4 linked regions of the Homo sapiens genome follow. The protein of the gene in region 2 interacts with the protein of the main gene of each other region in a pairwise test. Each region holds a gene or a part of one and is shown on either strand. Other genes may lie near its edges. The genes, in order: TRIM23, CIMIP4, MEOX1 and CCHCR1.

The links.
Region 1: the proteins of CIMIP4 (region 2) and TRIM23 interact in binary tests that used the Homo sapiens proteins (3 or more experiments, as listed by UniProt).
Region 3: the proteins of CIMIP4 (region 2) and MEOX1 interact in binary tests that used the Homo sapiens proteins (3 or more experiments, as listed by UniProt).
Region 4: the proteins of CIMIP4 (region 2) and CCHCR1 interact in binary tests that used the Homo sapiens proteins (3 or more experiments, as listed by UniProt).

The regions. Positions count from the first base shown.
Region 1 is NC_000005.10:65,592,865-65,597,424, forward strand, and holds part of TRIM23 (E3 ubiquitin-protein ligase TRIM23), read right to left. Parts: intron 4,317-4,560; coding exon 4,187-4,316; intron 3,668-4,186; coding exon 3,557-3,667; intron 1,782-3,556; coding exon 1,657-1,781; intron 1-1,656.
Region 2 is NC_000022.11:37,004,296-37,009,339, forward strand, and holds the start of CIMIP4 (ciliary microtubule inner protein 4), read right to left. Parts: upstream 3,557-5,044; 5' UTR 3,434-3,556; intron 3,362-3,433; exon of another isoform or gene 3,177-3,361; intron 1-3,176.
Region 3 is NC_000017.11:43,659,060-43,664,240, forward strand, and holds the start of MEOX1 (homeobox protein MOX-1), read right to left. Parts: upstream 2,864-5,181; 5' UTR 2,476-2,863; coding exon 2,007-2,475; intron 1-2,006. UniProt on the Homo sapiens protein: Mesodermal transcription factor that plays a key role in somitogenesis and is specifically required for sclerotome development. Required for maintenance of the sclerotome polarity and formation of the cranio-cervical joints.
Region 4 is NC_000006.12:31,150,673-31,155,232, forward strand, and holds part of CCHCR1 (coiled-coil alpha-helical rod protein 1), read right to left. Parts: intron 4,128-4,560; coding exon 3,824-4,127; intron 451-3,823; coding exon 287-450; intron 189-286; coding exon 53-188; intron 1-52. UniProt on the Homo sapiens protein: May be a regulator of keratinocyte proliferation or differentiation.

The sequences.
Region 1 (4,560 bases), on a different chromosome or scaffold from region 2:
ATTGTGTGGCTGCAACATAATTTAACCAGTCCTATACTGAATGTTCAGATTGAAGTTTTATGCTTATGTGCTATTATAAATCCATATATATACACATACATACATAAACATACATACACAAAAGTTGACATACATTTATGTATATTTGCAAAATTATCTGTAGGATAACCTTTGGATATCTGTCTACCAGATATATAAAGGTAGAATTGCAGGGTAAGGGACTTTGATGAGTATTGCCAAATTGTCCTCCAAGAAAATGTCTCAGTTTAATAACCCACGAACAGTGTTGACCAGGCGCAGTGACTCACACCTGTAATCCCAGCACTTTGGGAGGATGAGGCGGGCAGATCACTTGAGGTCAGGAGTTTGAGACCAGCCTGACCAACACGATGAAACCCTGAATCTACTAAAAATACAAAAGTTAGCCGGGTGTGGTAGCAAGCACCTGTAATCCCAGCTACTTGGGAGGCTGAGGCAGAAGAATCGCTTGAACCTAGGAGGGGGAGGTTGCAGTGAGCAGAGGTTGTGCCACTGCACTCCAGCCTGGTGACAGAGCAAGACTCAGTCTCAAAATAATAATAGTAACAGTTGTATATAAGTCTGAGGATTATAAAACACTTTCATCTTTAACTATCTGATGAGCAGAAAATGGTATTTCACTGACTTATTTGCATGTCTTAAATATACCAGTTCTTAATAGTTTGCCTTTTTTATTAAGGGGAAAATTCTTTATTCTTCATCCTACTCTTCCCCTCCCATGACATCTCCTCTGCTCCACTTCTACTCTCCTTCTGCCTCTACTTAAAAGCATCTCATCCTCCTAGAAAGGCTCAAGGTCTAGGAATCTTCAGCTACTCCCAGTCCTTCATCCTCCCCATTCAGTCACCAGTTCTGCCTCAAAGTCTTTTCCATCTGCCTCCGCCTTTCTATTCCTCTAATTCAGGCTCTTGTTAATGCTCACTTGAATTATTTAAGCAATTTACTGCATCTCCCTGTCTCCAGTCCTTTGCCCTGATTCATTCTACCCCTAGAATTATAGTATTGAAACACTGATATGATCTTATTACCCACTAATCCAACATTTTGATGACTCCTCCTTGCTCATAGAATAAAACCTAAATTTCTCAGTCTAGCACTGTCAGACCTTTACAGCATGGCCTTGTCTGTTATTCTAAATTCTCTTCATCCTCTACTGAGACCTGACATATAGATCTGCTTGATGTTCCCTAAACTAAAAACATTCATGCTATTATCTTCTCTGTCTATAATGTTCTTCCTTTCACATACTGACTCAGCCTCATGCATAATTTCAACTCAAATTCTACATTTTACAATCTTACAACATGCCACATTTAGAACTACTTTCCTAATTCCCGTAACACTGTGTTACTTAAGTTACTTATCAGTCTTCTTCGTATTCAGATCTCTTATGTGTTCATATGCATACACAGGAGTTTCTGGTGAGCATTAACTACCTTATTTCTATTTTGTATACTCCCAGGTACCCAGCACAGCATTTTCACATAGATTGTACTCAAAATACACAGAAGAAACTATAAATATCTATTGAACTGATTGTCTTCTGAAATATTTCCAGTTGCCTTTTGACATGCACAAAACTACTAAAATAAATATTCCAATATAAAAATGCATTACCTGTTTGTTAGCAAAAATCAGGAGCAGAGCATCTCGGAGTTCTTTTTCCGTTAACAACTTTGCAAGTTCGCTGTGTGCTTCACTAATTCTGTCTCTATGACTGCTATCTACAACAAACACAACAGCTACCCAAAAAAAAATAAAAAAAACAAAAATAGTCACTTGCTAAAGTTCAGTAAATGAACCAAATATTTAATGATATCATTATTATGTTATGGTTAGAGTTTGTCTACCATCATTATTTTCACACAGAGGGTGCCTAGTATGGCAGGGGCACCTACAAATAATTAACAGTATGATTTCAAGTAGTTTACATAACTTCTCAGGTTTAGTTTCCCCATCTAGGAAAGGATTTACAACACTTGCTCTATCAAATGCAAATTGGTCTGTATATCAAATAACTTTTTACATAACGAATTTCAAAATATGCCTCATGATCCTCTACCTATGGATGCTACTTGTTCTTCGAATACTACTTTTCTAATATTTAGTCTTTGAATAAAAGACTAAAAGATAAAAACCATCACCATTTTTATTTCTCCAAAGTATTATGTCTAAGTTAACTATCTCCAGACTTTCAACCATTCCTCATATTCAAAATTTCATTTTTGTAGGGCACAGTGGCTCACACCTATAATCCCAGCACTTTGGGAGGCTGAGGTGAGAGGATCACTTGAGCCCAGGAGTTCGAGACCCCTGGGCAATATAGTGAGACCTTATCTCTATTAAAAAAAAATTAAAAATTAGCTGAATGTGGCCGGGCGCGGTGGCTCGTGCCTCTAATCCCAGCACTTTGGGAGGCCAAGACGGGCGGATCACGAGGTCAGGAGATGGAGACCATCCTGGCTAACATGGTGAAACCCCGTCTCTACTAAAAATACAAAAAAATTAGCCAGGCATGGTGGTGGGCACCTGTAGTCCCAGCTACTCAGGAGGCTGAGGCAGGAGAATGGCGTGAACCTGGGAGGCGGAGCTTGCAGTGAGCCGAGATCGCACCACTGCACTCCATCCTGGGCGACAGAGCAAGACTCGATCTCAAAAAAAAAAAAAAAAAAAAATTAGCTGAATGTGGTGGCATATACCTAGTCCTAACTACTTGGGAAGTTAAGGTGGGAAGATTGCTTGAGCCCAGGAGACAGAGGTGACCATGAAATGCAATCATGCCACTGTACTCCTGCCTGGGCAACAAAGCAAGATTCTGTCTCAAAAAAAAAATACATTTTTTCTATTAATTATGGCTCATAATAATATCAAAAATCCCAAAGTAAAAATAATTATTCAGTCTCTCATCTTGGTGGAAAGCAGAATAACATACAGAATAAGCGGCATGAGCGTAAGCATTATGTTGGGGTCTATGAGGCAGAAGTGTAGAGTAAGACCCAAATGTGACTAAAACCTATGTAGAGTATAGATATGATATAATACGGTTTGGTCAAAAGCAAGCTACTGTAAGTTCTTCTGCAGGTAATAACTATTTGTGAAAGAAATGTGGGAGTGGGGCTATAGTGAGATTATAATGGGATAAATGTTGAGTTTAACTGAATTCAGCAGAATCATACAACATAAATTCAACTCTATACCACTACGCTACCAGCAGTCACACCCATATAATACTGGTAATATACACTCTCTGTTAAGAGAAGCAAGAGTACTCTTAACTGACTACATATCTAAGCTACGTATGGTTTTTATTCTGTAATAATGGTATATCAGGAATAAACTAAAAGTATATATCCTAATCTTTCTACTTTCATTTTTTACAAGTTAAGAAACTGGCCACAGGTACTTAAGTATACAGTCAACGACTTAATCATAAGTATCAGCTTTGCTAGTTAAATCAGTACACTGAAAACTGTCATCCTAAAAATGTGAAAAATTAAATGTCATTTTTAACTCTCACCTTGAGTATTGAGGTAATAATGTTTCCACAATGGTCTTAATTTGTGTTTTCCACCTACATCCCAAATAGTGAATTTTAGATTTTTATATTCTACAGTTTCCACGTTAAAACCTGTTTTAAAAAAAAAGTTACTTTTATACTATATTTGTATTTACAATGAATGACATATCAAACACAGACAACCCCCAGTTTATAACTGTGACTTATCAAATTATCTACATGCAGCAATATCTACTGAAGCCTAATCAACCCCATTCCTACTCCTACGTGGTGAATGTATACCTGTAACAGCTCCTAGCCCTCTAAACCTCCACCAAGGTCCTTAGGACCTTGGGATCCATGTACCTTCCAGCTCTGTTCCACAACTACCCCCCACCCCACACCCTCAGCCAGGATCACCAATCCTCTATTCCTTCCAACTGTCCCACCAATACTCTGTTTCTTCTTTTTATCCCCATCCACATTTCAATCCCATAGTCATACAATCTTGCATTTTTTCTCTGAGATGCTGATATCTTAGAGCCAGAAAAGAGCCCACCACCATGACAGATCAGTATCAAATAAGACCCCAAGAACTTGGCTGTAAGCTAGGGTTTGTCTATTAAGGTAAAAACCAATATTCATACTTACCAATTGTTGGAATGGGCTGCATGAATTCATCCTGTTTTAACTTAAACAAGATAGTAGTTTTTCCAGCACCATCCAATCCTAACGTAACGACCCGAATTTCCATTTTTGGTCCAATGTGAACTCGATTATCCTACAATTTAAATATTTTTAAATATGTTTGACATGCAGTTAGAAAGTAATAGCATTTAGCACCTTTATTATTTCTACATCTCCTATTCATTCCTCAACCATTGCAATCTGAATTGTATTCCTCAAAATACTGAGTCTGATCTCAAGAAGATGAAATCCTTCCCCATGGCTAAATCTTGCCTTAGTAAAACTGACCACTTTGTCTTTGTATAACAGAATATACATACCCACTTAATTTTCTCAGA
Region 2 (5,044 bases):
CAGTCCTCAAAGACCTATCTCAAGCAGCCTTGGAACCCTGGGCTCATTTTACTCCTTCATAATTTTTCCTTTCATCTCCTCCTCCTCTTCTGCCCCATCACCACCACCCTAGGAGACCCTAGCAGGCCCCTGGCTGTGAAGCCCATTGCCCCGGCTCCCATCCTGGCAACCATTTGTCTTCCTGCAAATAGGATTGTATCCATTTGCTGAATGGTCGTTCGTGCTCAGGGAAGGGAAGCAGCTTAGCCACCACGAAGGAGAACCAAGAGCAGGAACCCACACTTTGCTCTGGTGTAAACTCAGTCTTCTCTCTAAGGCCTTGGATTCAAATTAGAGGGGTAGATTCAAAAGCCTCTGCAGCTTTCGTGCTTGTGTTTTGTTTTCTTATGTGATCTTTCTTTTTTTTTTTTGAGACAGGGTCTTACTCTGTCACCCAGGCTGGAGTACAGTAGTGCAATCTCAGCTCACTGCAACCTCCACCTCCCAAGTTCAAGCAATTCTCCCACCTCAGCCTCCTGAGTAGCTGGGATTACAGGTGTGCACCACCACATCTGGCTAATTTTTGTATTTTTAGTAGAGACAGGGTTTCACCATGTTGGCCAGGCTGATCTCTAACTCCTGGCCTCAAGTGATCCACCCGCCTCAGCCTCCCAAAGTGCTGGGATTACAGGTGTGAGCCACCGTGCCCGGCCTGTGACTTCGGTTTTGTTTGCTCTCTTTCCCTGGTTCTCCTTGGTTTGCTCATTCTGATGACAGCAAATGCCGTGTTTTGAGCTGCCCTGTGGAGCAGCCCATGGAGCAAGAAACTGAGGGTGACTTCTGGCCAAAAGCTCATAAAGAATAGAAGCCCTGAGTCCAACAGTCTTTGAAGAACTGAATGAATCCTGACACCTGAATGAGCTTGAAAGTGGATCCTTCCCCAGTTGAGCCTTGATATGAGAACACAGCCTGGATGACACTTTCATTACAGCCTGTGGGATACCCTGGGCCAGAGGACCCAGCCAAGTGAGCATCCTGACTCCTATAAGTTCTGAGATCATAAATTTGTACTGTTTTAAACATACAGTGTCAAACTTCTAAGCTTTATGGTCATTTGTTACGCAGCAATACATAGCTAATACATATTTTGGTACTAACAGTGGGGTGTTGCTATAACAAATACTTAAAAATTTGGGACTGAACTTGGAACCAAGCGGTGGTCAGAGTCTATAAGGATTTTGAGAAGCATGATAGAAAAAGCCTAAATCACCTTAAACAGTTTTTTTTTTTTTTTAAGCAGAAATCTGGAGTTGGAAGATGCAGTGAGTGAGGGCCCAAATGGAAGTGAGGAATATATTACTAGAAATAGTGGAAGAAAGACCCTTGTTATGTAGTGGCAGAAACAGTGACACTGTCATCTGCAGTTATGTGACTAATGAACTGAATGATTTAGCTAAAGAGTTCCAAAGAAAAGATGGTAGTTGCCTCTTACTTTCTTCTTGCTGCTTGTAGTGAAATGTGAGAGGAAGGTGATGAATTGAAGAAGGGACTGTTAAACAAAAAGATGCCAGTACTTAATGGTTCTGAAGTCTCATCCTTTCCAGATCCCAAAAGATGCTAAAATTAAGAAATAGCTTCAGAAGGCTGTCTGGAAAGTGTGCCCAGGAGTGTGACTGTGCGACCTGTTGTTAAAACTTCAGAAAGATCAAAGGATGAGGGTATTACTCTGTCAAACAAAGGGTGCTTTAAAGAGATTAAAGAGATGCCTGATATATCCTCTTAACAGAACCATAGGACCTCTAGGAAGCTTAAGGCTCCTCAACAGGAGCCTCAGTTAAAAAGGGGTGTGACTTTTGTTCAATGGAGTGAACCCCTGTAAGTTTTACTGTTGAGAAAATAACATCAGCAAAATGTTGGCAACTTCGGGTAAAAGGGATAGAGACAGTACAAAATGAAAAGATACCATTGAACAAAAAATAAAAATAAAAAAGACAAGTCAGAGAGTGGATGCAAGAGTCCAGAAGGCAGAGCTGAGAGCCATGGAGAATTATCCCCAGGCCTTGAAACCTAATCAAGGAATGTCCAACATTTGTGTGGCTGGATTTCAAAACCGCTATGGAACATTGACTCCATGTCTCCATTTTCCTCAATTTTGAATAGGAATGTCACTAGTTCTTATCCTATGCCTATCACATCACTGTATGTTAGGTGTGTTCAGGGCAAATTACTTAGTTTCACAGATCTATGATGGGGAAGAATTGAATCTGAGAAGCTGTACTTAAGGAACGACACTGGAGGAGCCTCAGCCACACCTGGAGCTGATTTATATGACCAGATTCTAGCTTTTAAACTGATGCTTTAATAGGATGAGAATTTTAAAGATCTTAGGAGGGGATGACTATATTTTGCATGTGGAAGGGATGTACATTATTGGGGGCCAGAGGGCAGAGAGTGGCAGGCAGTTGACATGGCTCCCAATGATCCCTGTTTCTTGGTATAATTCTCTCCCCTTTGGTGTGGACTGGACATAGTGATGAATGGAATGTGGCAAAAATGAGGGATGTTGCATCCATGATGAACTTATAAGAGACTACAACTTCTGTCTTTTTCACACACTCTCTGCAGCTCTCCTCAGCTCATCTTCTCTGACAGAAGCCAGTTTCCCTGTTGTGAGATGCCCTATGGAGAGGTCCACAGGGCAAGGAACTCAGAGTGGCCTCTTGCCAACAGCTCCAGAGTAGCTGGATCCTGCCATGTGAATGGGTTCCTTCTCTGGTCGAGCTTTGAGATGAGACTAGAGACCCAAGCAACACCTTGATTGCAGCCTGTGAGAGACCCTGGGACAGAAAAATCACCAACACTCCACCGGTATTCCCAACTCACAGAAACTGTGAGATAGTAAATGTTGTCTTAAGCCCACTAAGTTTTGGGGTGATTTGTTGTGCAGCAAGAGATAACTAACACAAGTCCATGTCAAGCATTCTCACATCTGGTAAATTAGTCTGGTCTTCACAAATACCCAGTAAGGTGTTCGGAGACACTACTAATTTATCTTCTTTCACAGATGGAGAAAATGAGGCTCCGAAAAGACACAGGACTTCACCAGGTGGGGCTAAAATTAAATTGCACATCTTCAAGCTAGGTGAAGTTCAAGTTAGCTCCAAGTTTTCTTTCTCCTCCTATCCCCAGCCACCAACCTGACGTGCCCACGGCAGCTCTGTACGTCCCAGTGCACTGCCAGTCCACAGCAGTCTGGACGGGCTACAATGGAAGTGTGGACTCACTTCCAGTTTCTGACCCAGAGAGAGAGATCCCAAGAGACTTTGGTCAAAGAGGGCGGGAAGGTAAGTCCAGTCTAGGCAGTCTTCACTCACAAGCAACTCTGAATGGGGAGAAGGAAGATGAAACCCCATGTCCTGGAAGAACCCTGGCCCTTCATAAGTCTCTGCCTCACCTCTCCAATCTCTTTCATAACAGCAGGAAACACGTGAACCACACTGATGTGTGCTGAAGCCCAGAAGTGCAGATCCCCACTGCAGAACTACTGGTGAAGACCAATGGATGGTTGCTGGGAAGTGGCCCTCCCCAAGATGTTCATTGGAGTTGCCATGGTGATCACTATACACAGGGCTCTGTTACCTCAGAGGGCTGATAGGCCCACCCGTAGGGAAAAGAGGCCAGGAGAAAGCCAGGATTGAGGCCAGGAAAAGGCAGGAGGGGCTTCAATTATTGTTCACTCTCTCATCCACTCTAGAATGTCAGTTGAGCCCCCACTACATGCCAGGTGTGCCAGGCACAGGGGGCTCAGATGCTACCAAGTGCAAAAGATGTTCTTGGGAGCTCAAAGCACTAAGTAGGGAGAAGAACTAGCTCTGTGTAGGAAAAAGGAGGAAGGACTTATGAAAGAGCCATTTGAGTTGGATCTTGAAGGATGCCTAGGAACTTAACAGTTTTGAAGGGATGAGAATATTAAAGGCATGGATGTGTATAACAGCATAAATGTAGGTCGAGGTCAATGGGGAAGGAGAAAGATGCATCTGGAGCTGTCTGATTTGGACACCCAGGGATCAGGGACCTGGGAGTAAAACTAAAGGAAGGGTCCTCTCTCCTATTCCTAAACAACAAGGGCTACAGAAGGAGATCAACAAAATTAAGTGACTTCTTTTCTGCAGAGAAGAAGGAGGCAGAAGTCATTGGTGCCAGCACTGGCCCATTCCTGTCTGGCTGTTGCTCAGCCTGGACAAAGAGTGGGTATAGTGAACGCCTCCTGCAAGCCCAGCCTTTCAGGATTTCCCCAGGAAACAGAGAGTGCTGTGGTTAAACTTGGAGTCCCCAGAATCTGGGCCTGTCACTTATTAGATAAGAGACTGGCCAAGTCCTTTAGCTGAACTTCCTTCACATGTGAAACAGATATCACCCAACACTAAGGATAAGGGTGATGGGCGAATAAAACAATTTTTTGCAAAATGTAGCACATTGCCTTGCACAGAGAGAGACATCACAAAACTCTAAGCTACTTCCGCAAGCAACCCATCAGCAAGTCCTTCGAAGTACACTAGATTTGGATGCCTTCGTCCACCTCCACAACTCCCCCTACTCCCTGGTCCAAGCCACCCTCATCTCTTGCCTAAGTATTATCTATTGCTGCACGACAATCTTGCCATAAACTTCGAAGCTTAACATACAACTGTTATCTCACAGTTTCTTTGGGTCGGGTGTCTACTCATGGCTTAGCTGAGTTCTCTGCATTGGGGTCTTAGCAGGCTACAATCCAAGTATTGGCCAGGGCTGCAGTCTCATCTGAGGTTCCACTAGGGAAGAATATGCTTCCAAGCTCATGTGGCTGTGGGAGGATTCAGTTCCTTGCAGTCTGTTAGACTGAGGGTCTCAGGCTCTCTCTGGCTGTCAGCCAGAGGCCATCCTCAGTTCCTTGCTATGTGGGCCCCCCAACACCAACATGACACTGACTTCATCAAAGCCAGCAAAGAGGGAGTCCCCTTGCAAGATGGGGCATTACAATGTTGTGTACCATAGTCACAGAAGTGGCATCCATCACCTTTGCCGT
Region 3 (5,181 bases), on a different chromosome or scaffold from region 2:
CAGGGCCATCGGCCACTCGCCAAAAAGAGAGCTGGTGCATTTGGGTTTTGCTGAGACTCGGAATGCTGGAAGATTCTGCCTGAGCCCAGCAGGCTCTTGGCTTTGCTATCCCTTCCCAATGCCCTTGGCTGTCAGTTCTCTGGAAAGTGGCAGAGAGGAAGGAGCCACAGTGCTGCGTGCCGCCACCAAGGGGAAAGCTCTTCAACCAGGTTCAGAGCCAAGTCGCTGAGAGTTGCTTCTCATCCTTAGCACATTTCCTACCAGGGGCAGGATGAGTTAATTTTCGGGATGGGGATCTAACTGGCTGGCGGTTTAAAGGGCCCTTCTATTTAGCAGCCATGAGGGCTGCTAGAGTTCCTATCTCCCATTGAAGAAGGGGCTTCTTCAAGCAGACAGACCAAACATCATTTCAAAATGAGGACTGCATTTGAAATCTACTGAAGGGGGTGATACCGGGGGCCTGAAGCCTGGGGTTTGAGCTCACTTCTAGGGTGACCAATTCTTCTGTTTGCCTGGGACTGTGGGGTTTCCTACGACAGGATTTTCAGTGCTAAAACTGGAAAAGTCCTGGGCAAATGGAGATGAGCTGCTCACTCTAGTTTGACCCCATTCTTTCTGTGTTCTCACCAACTTTCAGTCTTTCATTTTGCAGATTGAGAGAATCAAGGTACTAATAAAACCTGCTGTCCCCATCTCCCAAACCCGTGGGACTCAAAAGAGCTGACGTCAGTATCCCATGGCACCTTAAGCCTCCCCATCAGGGCACATCCCACTGCTGACACACCTCTGCAGGCCTCTTCTTCCTCTCAGTTTGAGCTTTCTTGGGTGAGACCCCTTTATTCATCTCAGAGCATTCCTGGGCTTGGCTAAGAGCAGAAACTCGGGAAAGCTGTGCTTATAAAGCAAAGCACAAAGCATTCCCACCTGTTGGTTGGTGTCCTTCTTTTCTGTCCTGCCCTGGTTAGCCCCATGGGAAGGTCCTCTACAGGCTCCGACAGACAGGCGTGCCCCTGAGGGCGGCTGTCAGGAGGAAAACAGGGCAGCACGGGCAGGAGGCTTGGTCACTGCTTTGTTCTGAACGAGGCCGGGACAAGGAACCAGACAAAAGGTGGACAGGTATAGTGAGCAACCAGGGAGGGCCTGGTGGGGAGGTGAGGAAGCAGCAGGTCCCCACCCTGGGGAAGAGAAGGGCTTTAGCTGGAATCTTAACAAATAGGCCAATCTCATCCTCCAGCCTCTGGGACTCCAGCACGGACTCCCTTGGCTGCCTGCCTCCCTGACTCTCTCAGAGGCTGCCCATCCCTTGCAGCTCCTTGCGGGGCTGCCTTCCTGGGGGGTCAGCCAGATCTCAGCATGCTGAGTTGTCTGTCCCCTTGGCCTGGACATGGCCCAGCTCCGCAGGGTGATATCTGGTGGGCAGTCTGCCCCAAACCTCAGCCCTCCATCTCCCCCTCACCCCTTGATTCTCCCATCCCAGCCGCAGGCCTGCTTCTCTGCCTCTAGGCTCCTGGACACATAGGGTCTTGGCTTTGGGTGGCCACCCAGGGTCCCAGCTTCAGTCTTAGCTCTCAGAGCCTTAACCTCAGCTGAACTTCCCTGGTAAGCGAGCCCTGTGGCTCTAGGACCACTTGGGGCTGGCCAAAGCATGGTGGGGAGGAGGATGACTCAATGGCAGCCTGATTCAGGAAAGCCCCTCACCAGCCCTCGCCAGTCTGCACCCAGAGGATCCATTTCACGTGTCCTCCAAATCCTGGCTGATCCTGTTTCATTCTCTTGCTGGACACCCTTTCTGGGGCCCAGGAGTGCTGGGACACAGACATGGTCCCCATCACCAGAGAATCCTAGAACTCTCAGTGGAAGAAACCCCAAAGGTAACTGGTCCAGTCTCCTGCATTTGGATGGACTAGACAGAAATTCATGCTCAGAGCACCTAGGCACAGAGAGGGTGAGTAACTTCCCCAGGGTCACACAGTAAAGGAATGATCAGCTGCTCCTGAGCCACCTACCTGAACTCTCCTTTCTCCGCCTGGATGATTTCTTCTCTGTCTCATTGGCAGTGCTCCCAAGCACCCCGTAGTCATCGCCTGGGCCTCCTGTGGTGTCCACCAGGCCCAGGCTGCTGGTCCCCATTTCCTTGGAACCCCCTGCCGGGCCTGAGTTGGGCCTGCGCCGGGCGTCTGAGACAGGGAAGTGCCAGTTGGGGGACTGTGGGAAAGCGGGGTGCTGCTCAGTGAAGATGTGCTCCTCCTGGGGCAGGCTGTGTGGGGTGGCTGCCAGGCAGGAGGCTGAGAAGTCAGGGTACGCTGCCGTCGCTGTCGCCAGGAAGTCTGGTTTCTGGTGGAAGGAGAACGGGGTGGGCGGGTAGTGGGGTAGCCCTGAGGCCCCATTGCCTTCCGAGTGGGGGTTTCGAAGGCAGCCCCAGACAGGGGCTGGGGGCTGGAGGCTCCTCATGCAGCTGCTGGCCGCGGGATCCATCTGCTGTCCGCTGCACGCCTCGGTCCTTTCAAAGATTTGATTCTTTATACTTTTTATGTTCAAATTTTTAAAAATGCAAAAGAAAAAAAACTAAATAGGAGGGAAAAATGTTCAACAGAAAATTTACCCCAGGAACCAAAAAAAAAAAAAAACCCAAAACTAAAGTCTCTCCTTAAAGTACACACACATGTGGCCAGCTACTCCTATGTGTGTGCACACACCTATGTCGGGCTTGCTCCTGCCCCTCCAATGCACCAGCCTACCTACTGGGATCCCCTGTATGTGTATTTGTCGCCAATGACACTAAACATTTTCACTGTCCCAACCCAGACGCACCAGCTGACGAGGAGTTCGTCCTGGAGCCCAGAGCAAATGCCTGCAGAGGGCTGGACCAGGGCTGCTGGGACACACTTTTAAATCCTGCGGTGGGGAGAGAGTGACAAATTTCTGAAGTGAAATGTGAGAGAGGAGAGGGAGGGGTTAACCCACACACACAAGATCCCCTCCAACCAAAACCCTAGCAGGCAACTATTAATCATCAGAAACCTTATATGCACATCTAATGGGATTTGCAGATGGAGACTTTTAAAGAAACATTGTCTGTATTTTTTTTTTAAGGAAAGAGAGCAGCACACACACACATACACACACACCGTCTTTAATGTGCCTCCTGTAACACTATGAAGTTATTTTTATTGCACTGTTAACAAAATTCCCCAAGTCTTGGATTTAGAAAAAGCCTTAAGTCAGATCCAGAATCCATCAAATGCCAAATTCCAGGGAGTGAAGTGAGGAATAAGAGCAAGAGACAAGCTTGGTGATTGCATTTGATTTAAAGGCCCTTCTACTGCTGCCTGCGAAAAAGGAAGGTGGATTAAAAGAAATCTTTTTTGCAAGTCTCAGCGGCCCACTGTGGTCTGCAGTACAAAGAAAGGCACACTCTAGAAAAAAAGAATTTCTCTCTGCCCAGAGTGACATTCTCACTTTCTCAGTAACTTAAAAAAACAATCAGATTCTTCCTTCCGCTCTTTAACCTCCAACATACATGCCAATTAGCCACACTCTTCTCTAGAGAGGTTTCAAGTCATTTTTCTTCACAGCAATGGCAAGGCTCTTAAATAAGGTCCTTGAAGTTTCTTCGGGTCTCCTCCCACCTGCTCCCTGCCCCCTTCACCTCCACCCACCTGCTTCCCTTTCTCATCCCCCAGAGGCGGAGGCTTCCGAGGAATTTGGGGTAGGGAAATAGGAATCAGGGGCTCCTCATTCCCCAAAGGAGCCTCTTTGGCAAGCAGGCACGTGGGTCTCCGGGCTGGTGCACATCACAGGGCAGCCAGCCCAAGTGCCATCTTGATGCCCAGTCTTCCTCATGGCTGCGCCCTGCTGGTCTCTCAGAGGGTTAATGCAATTTCTTGGAGGACGACATTCCTAACACCCAGGGGCCAGAACTCCTTCCCCACTGGTTATTCCCATGGCCCAGAGCAGCAGGATGGGGGCAGAAACAGGCATGGACCTTAACAGCAGCGTCTCTGCTGGCTGCTTCCAAAGACGGCGAGGGTTCCCTGAGGAGGGGCCCCTAGGTCTTAGCTCTGCAGCCTGGAGGTGGGGCCCTGGGGGGTGGGTGCAGGAGATGCTCCTAGGAGGAGCCGAAGGGCACCCAGGGATGTGGAATGAAGCCACGACTGGCCTTTAATCCAGAAACTCCAGTCAGATACACATCCTGGGAGCAGGAGCAGCTGTAAAAGATGGGGAGGGGTGTACATATGAAAAGATGTGCCCTCTTCTGGAACAAGCGGTCAGAGTGTTGTAGACCAGTAGAGTGGATGGGGTCATAGCTGTCAACCAGACTCATCTTTCTGCTTTGCCCAGGGCTTAGCTGTGGCACACACAATTCTCTGAGCCTCACAACTTTCCTAGGATGGGTAAGTAAGAATTATGTCTCCATTTTGCAGATGACAAAACCGAGGCTCAGATGGATGACTGGGCTGCCCAGACTCACACAGCTAAGAAATGGTGGAATCAGCACTTGGCCTCAGGTGTCCTGCTGTTCAGTTTGGAGCAGGCCAGATGCAGAGGAGGAGGCATGGGGTTTGAGGTTAGACGGGTCTGAGTTCAAGCCCCAGGTCTGCCACTTCCTGGCTGTGTGCCCTGGAACAAGTCACCTTATCTCTCTGAACTTCTTTTTTTTTTTTTTCTTTTTGAGATGGAGTCTCGTTCTGTCGCCCAGGCTGGAGTGCAGTGGCATGATCTCAGCTCACTGCAAGCTCCGCCTCCCGGGCTCACGCCATTCTCTTGCCTCAGCCTCCCGAGTAGCTGGGACTACAAGCACCCGCCACCACGCCCGGCTAATTTTTTGTATTTTTTAGTAGAGACGGGGTTTCACCGTGTTAGCCAGGATGGTCTCAATCTCCTGACCTCGTGATCCGCCCGCCTCGGCCTCCCAAAGTGCTGGGATTACAGGCATGAGCCACCATGCCTGGCCATCTCTCTGAACTTCTGTTTCCTCATCTGAGATGACAGTCAGAGTGGGATCTGTGTAAGGCACTTTGCACCTTACACATTTTTACCCCCACGGATTCCCACAAAAGCCTTCTGAGGCAACAGTCATTCTCATCAGCTCCGTTTCTCTCTCTCTCTTTTTTTTTTATCAGCTCCGTTTTTCAGCAGAAGACTCTGATGCACAGATAGACTGTGTAACCTGCACAAGGC
Region 4 (4,560 bases), on a different chromosome or scaffold from region 2:
CCTCCCAACCTGATCCCTAAGTCTGCACACAGATACATTCCTGCACCCTCACCTGCATGGTTTCCAGAAGCTTCTGTCGCTCCAGTTCCCATGTCTGGCTGTGGACCTCAGAAGGCACTTGTTCCCCAACATATTTTCTTAGATTCTCAACCAGGGTCACCTGAGCCTCCAAGTCTTCCTGGGTCTTGCTAGGGTTGGGGTGGGAATGGGACAGCCATCAGTGGGGCGCCCTGCAGATCCACCACATCACTAATTGCTGGGCTCCCGTCGGCGTCCGCCCACCTACCTCAGCTGCTTCCGAAGCAGCTCGGCCTCCCTCTGAGCCTCGGCCAGCTCCTTGGCTTCCCCTGCTCTTCTGGTTTCCAGACTACTCAGAGACTTCTCCAAGCCCTCAGCCTTGCTGGTCAAACTGGAAAGAGCCTCCTCGTGAGCCTGTGTCAAAGAGGACAGCTGCGGAAAGAAGAGGGGGCTCAGCAGAGGCTCGACCCCACATGGAGGCCTTCCTTGTTCCCTTCACTCCCACTTTCTGTGACCTTAGAGAATGACCCAACCAATCAGCCAACTGTGCACAGCAAATGGAGAGCTGGCAACTCACTCTCCGCAGCTGCCCCACAACCCATCAGGAGTTCTTGTCCGATCTCCCCCAAAACATATCTTCACCTCTCTGTCTCCGTCTCCACTGCCACCAACCCTCATCTTTTGCCTGGGCAACAGCGACCATCTCCTAACTAGTCTTTACAAACCCTCAGTGGCTTCTCACAGCATTCACAACAAAACCCAGGTGTCTCTCCACACCTGCAGGCCAGGGGACCCGGCCTCTGCCTACCTCCTGAGCTCACCCTGGAGGCTCTCCCACTGCTCCCCGCTCCGGCCACGGGGAGTCTGCTGAGAACCAGACAGCGGCCCCTCCTTGCTCCACAGACCCCAGGCGATAGCCCCTCCTCAGGGTGGCTTCACTGGGCCCTCTAATACCGTCCCTCCCCACCCTACTCTGCCCCATCAGCTGTTCACGTCCTCCTGAGCACTTAGCACTGACCATATCTTGCTTATGTGTATGTGTTACTATCTGTCGGACCACACTGGAAGGAAAGCTCCAGGAAAGGAGGAATTTTGTGTCTTTTGCTCATGGCACCTCAAAGGGTTGCAGGGGTGTCAGAGCCACCAAGAGTCATGGGATGGACTGGAAAGGAGGGCAAAGTGCCCACCCTGCTTCCTGGTCTGCCTCCTCTAGCCCTGTCTCCATACAACAATAAAATTAATTTGGGGGACATAAATGACAAAATTTTTTAGACATAAAATACAAATCTAATCATGTTATTTCCCTGCTTAAAACCTTTCAACAGGCCGGGCGCAGTGGCTCATTCCTGTAATTCCAGCACTTTGGGAGGCCGAGGTGGGTGGATCACAAGGTCAGGAGATCGAGATCATCCTGGCTAACATGGTGAAACCCCGTCTCTATTAAAATACAAAAAATTAGCTGGGCGTGGTGGCGGGCGCCTGTAGTCCCAGCTACTCGGAAGAATGACTTGAACCCGGGAGGCGGAGCTGGCAGTGAGCCAAGATCGCGCCACTGCACTCCAGCCTGGGCGACAGAGCGAGACTCCATCTCAAAAAAAAAAAAAAAACAACCTTTCAACGGTTGCTTATTACTTGAAAAAACAATTTTTTTTTGTTTGTTTTTTTGGAGATGGAGTTTCACTTTGTTGCCTAGACTGGAGTGCAATGGCACGATCTCAGCTCACTGCAAACGCTGCCTCCCAGGTTCAAGCGATTCTCCTGCCTCACCCTCCTGAGTAGCTGAGATTACAGGCATGAGCCACCACGCCCAGCTAATTTTTGTATTTTTAGTAGAGATGAGGTTTTACCATGTTGGCCAGGCTGGTCTCGAACTCCTGACCTCAAGTGATCCACCCGCCTCAGCTTCCCAAAGTGCTAGGATTACACATGTGAGCAACCATGCCCAGCCCTAATTTCTTCCATAAAATAGAGATGGGGGTCTCGCTTTGTTGCCCAGGCTGGTCTCAAACTCCTGGGCTCAAATGATCCTTCCACCTTGGCCTCCCAAAGTGCTAGGATTACAGGTATGAGCCACTGTGCCCAGCCTGCTCATTGCTCTTATGGGAAAGTAGCAAGTTCTGAAGTGGCCAAAGCCTTGTGCCCTGGGCCCTGGGCTCTGCAGCACACTCAGTGCCCCTCATCTCTGTGCCCCAGCCTTCTGGCCTCCTGTCCCCGCCTTCACCTGTTGTCCCACCAAGTGTCTTCCAGCTACCACTGGACTTCACACGCCTCTTCACTGGCCAACTCCTATTCAGCACAAACGGTAGCTTGTTGTTTTTTTAGTCTCGCTCTGCTGCCCAGGCTGGAGTGTGATGTCAGCTCACTGTAACCTCTGTCTCCCAGGTTCAAGCAATTCTCCTGCCTCAGCCTCCCAAGAAGCTGGGGGATTACAGGCGCCCACGACTATACCCGGCTAATTTTTGTATTTTTTTGTAGAGTTCTTCATGTTGGCCAGGTTGGTCTTTAACTCCTGGCCTCAAGTGATCCGCCCACCTCGGCCTCCCAAAGTGCTGGGATTACAGGCATGAGCCACTGTGCCTGGCCTAGCTTCTTGTTTCTAAGTTTCTTTCATAAATCTCCTTTGTCCATTTTCTGATTGGATTGCTGGTCTTTCCCTTACCAATTTCTAGGCACACATTTTATATTAGGGATATTACCCTTTTCTTGTGATCTGAGCTATAAATATAGCTTTTTTTTTTCTTTTTGGCTATTCCTAATGTTCATGTTATAAAGTCAATGGATCAATTTTTTCCTTTATGGCTTCTAGATTTTGGATTTTGACTCACAGGTAGAAAGGCCTTGCCCACTACAAGGTTATAAAGGAATTCTCCCTTGTTTTCTCCCAGTTCCTTTTTTATTTTATTTTTTGAGACAGAGTCTTGCTCTGTCGCCCAGGCTGGAGTGCAATGGCACAGTCTCGGCTCACTGCAACCTCCACTGCCCAGGTTCAAGTGATTCTCCTGCCTCGGCCTCCCAAGTAGCTGGGATTACAGGTGCGCACCACCACGCCTGGTGAATTTTTGTATTTTTAGTAGAGACAGGGTTTCGCCATGTTGGCCAGGCTGGTCTTGAACTCCTGACCTTGTGATCTGCCTGCTTCGGCCTCCCAAAATGCTGGGATTACAGGCGTGAGCCACTGCGCCCAGGGCTATGGTTTCTTTCCTTGACATGTCAACTGGTTACAGTGGCCTTCCCTGAACCCCAGACTAAGTTAGTGCTTTCTAGTCCTTCTCCTTCAAGGCATTCCTCCTGATTGCAATTAATTATGATTAAATTAAATGTGGATGTGTATATCCCCCACGAGGCTGTCAGTTCCATCCACGAAGGCAGGACTCAGGCTAATTTGGTCACTGAGTCTTAGAGATGGCAAAGAGTAAGTACTGAGTTTGAGGACTGAATAATCTCTCTCTCCCAGTCCACCATAGCCCCCTTATACCCACCTTCCTCACTGCCCTCCACAATACCCCTGATGAATTGGTACCTGGAGTAAAGTAGGGAGGCAAACTATTTCCTACTAGAAAGGGAAGCAGGGCTTCAAGTGGTGGGAGGCCACCTGAGTCTTGGGGGAAAAGTGCAACCTGAATTAAGATAAAAGTACCCAAATTCTCCATCTTTCTAGGCCATGTGTGTTTATTTTCACCAAAGGTCTCATCACTCTACTACTCACTACTCATGGAGGGTCTTTTCTGCAATACCTGTTCTTTGCTTGGAAGCTACTGCCCAGCTCTCCGTTATGAATTTGAATCCTTTCTACCCCTGCATTCACCTGCTCTTGGTGCAGCCTCTGAACCTCTTCCAGCTCCCGCTGGCTCCCCTCTTCCAAGTTCTTCCGGACAACCTCAGCCCCAGCCAAAGCAGCACGCAGGCCCTCAGCCTCAGCTCGGCCGGCCTTCTCCGCCCGTGCCAGAGCCTCTAGCTCCATGGCCTGGGCCTCTAGCCTCATCTTCTGCTGCAGCGAGGTCTCCCGCAGGAGCCGGACCTCCTCCTCCAGCCGCCGCAGCTCTTGCAGCTGCCGAACGATCACCTCAGCCTGCTGGCTCAGGGCCTGTGACCCCTCCAGCCCCCAGGACCTTCAAAGACAGGTTAGTGCAGGTGAGACTTGTCTCCAGTGCTGGAAGGATAGTTGAGGGCATAAACATAGCCAGGAGAAGGAAAAGAGGACCCCTCTGCTTCCGTGTGGGGAGGTGAAGGGGGTGCTGAAGCTGGGGTATGGGGATGTCTGCATTGACATCATCATCATTCATCAAAGCCCTATTGAGCATGTTGAGTCCAGTGCCTGGACTCACAGGACCTAAAGTCTGGCTGAGATCGTGGAACATGATCTCCCTAGAGAGAGCTACATACAGGAGGATTCAACATCAAATGTGTATATCATTAGGCCACACATTCTTTTTGTTTTTTGGTGGTTTTTTTGTCTTATTTATTTTTTTATTTTTAGGCCACACATTTTAAGTGGAAAGGTTGGAAGAACACACAGGGACTTCTCAATTCTAATTTAAGGGC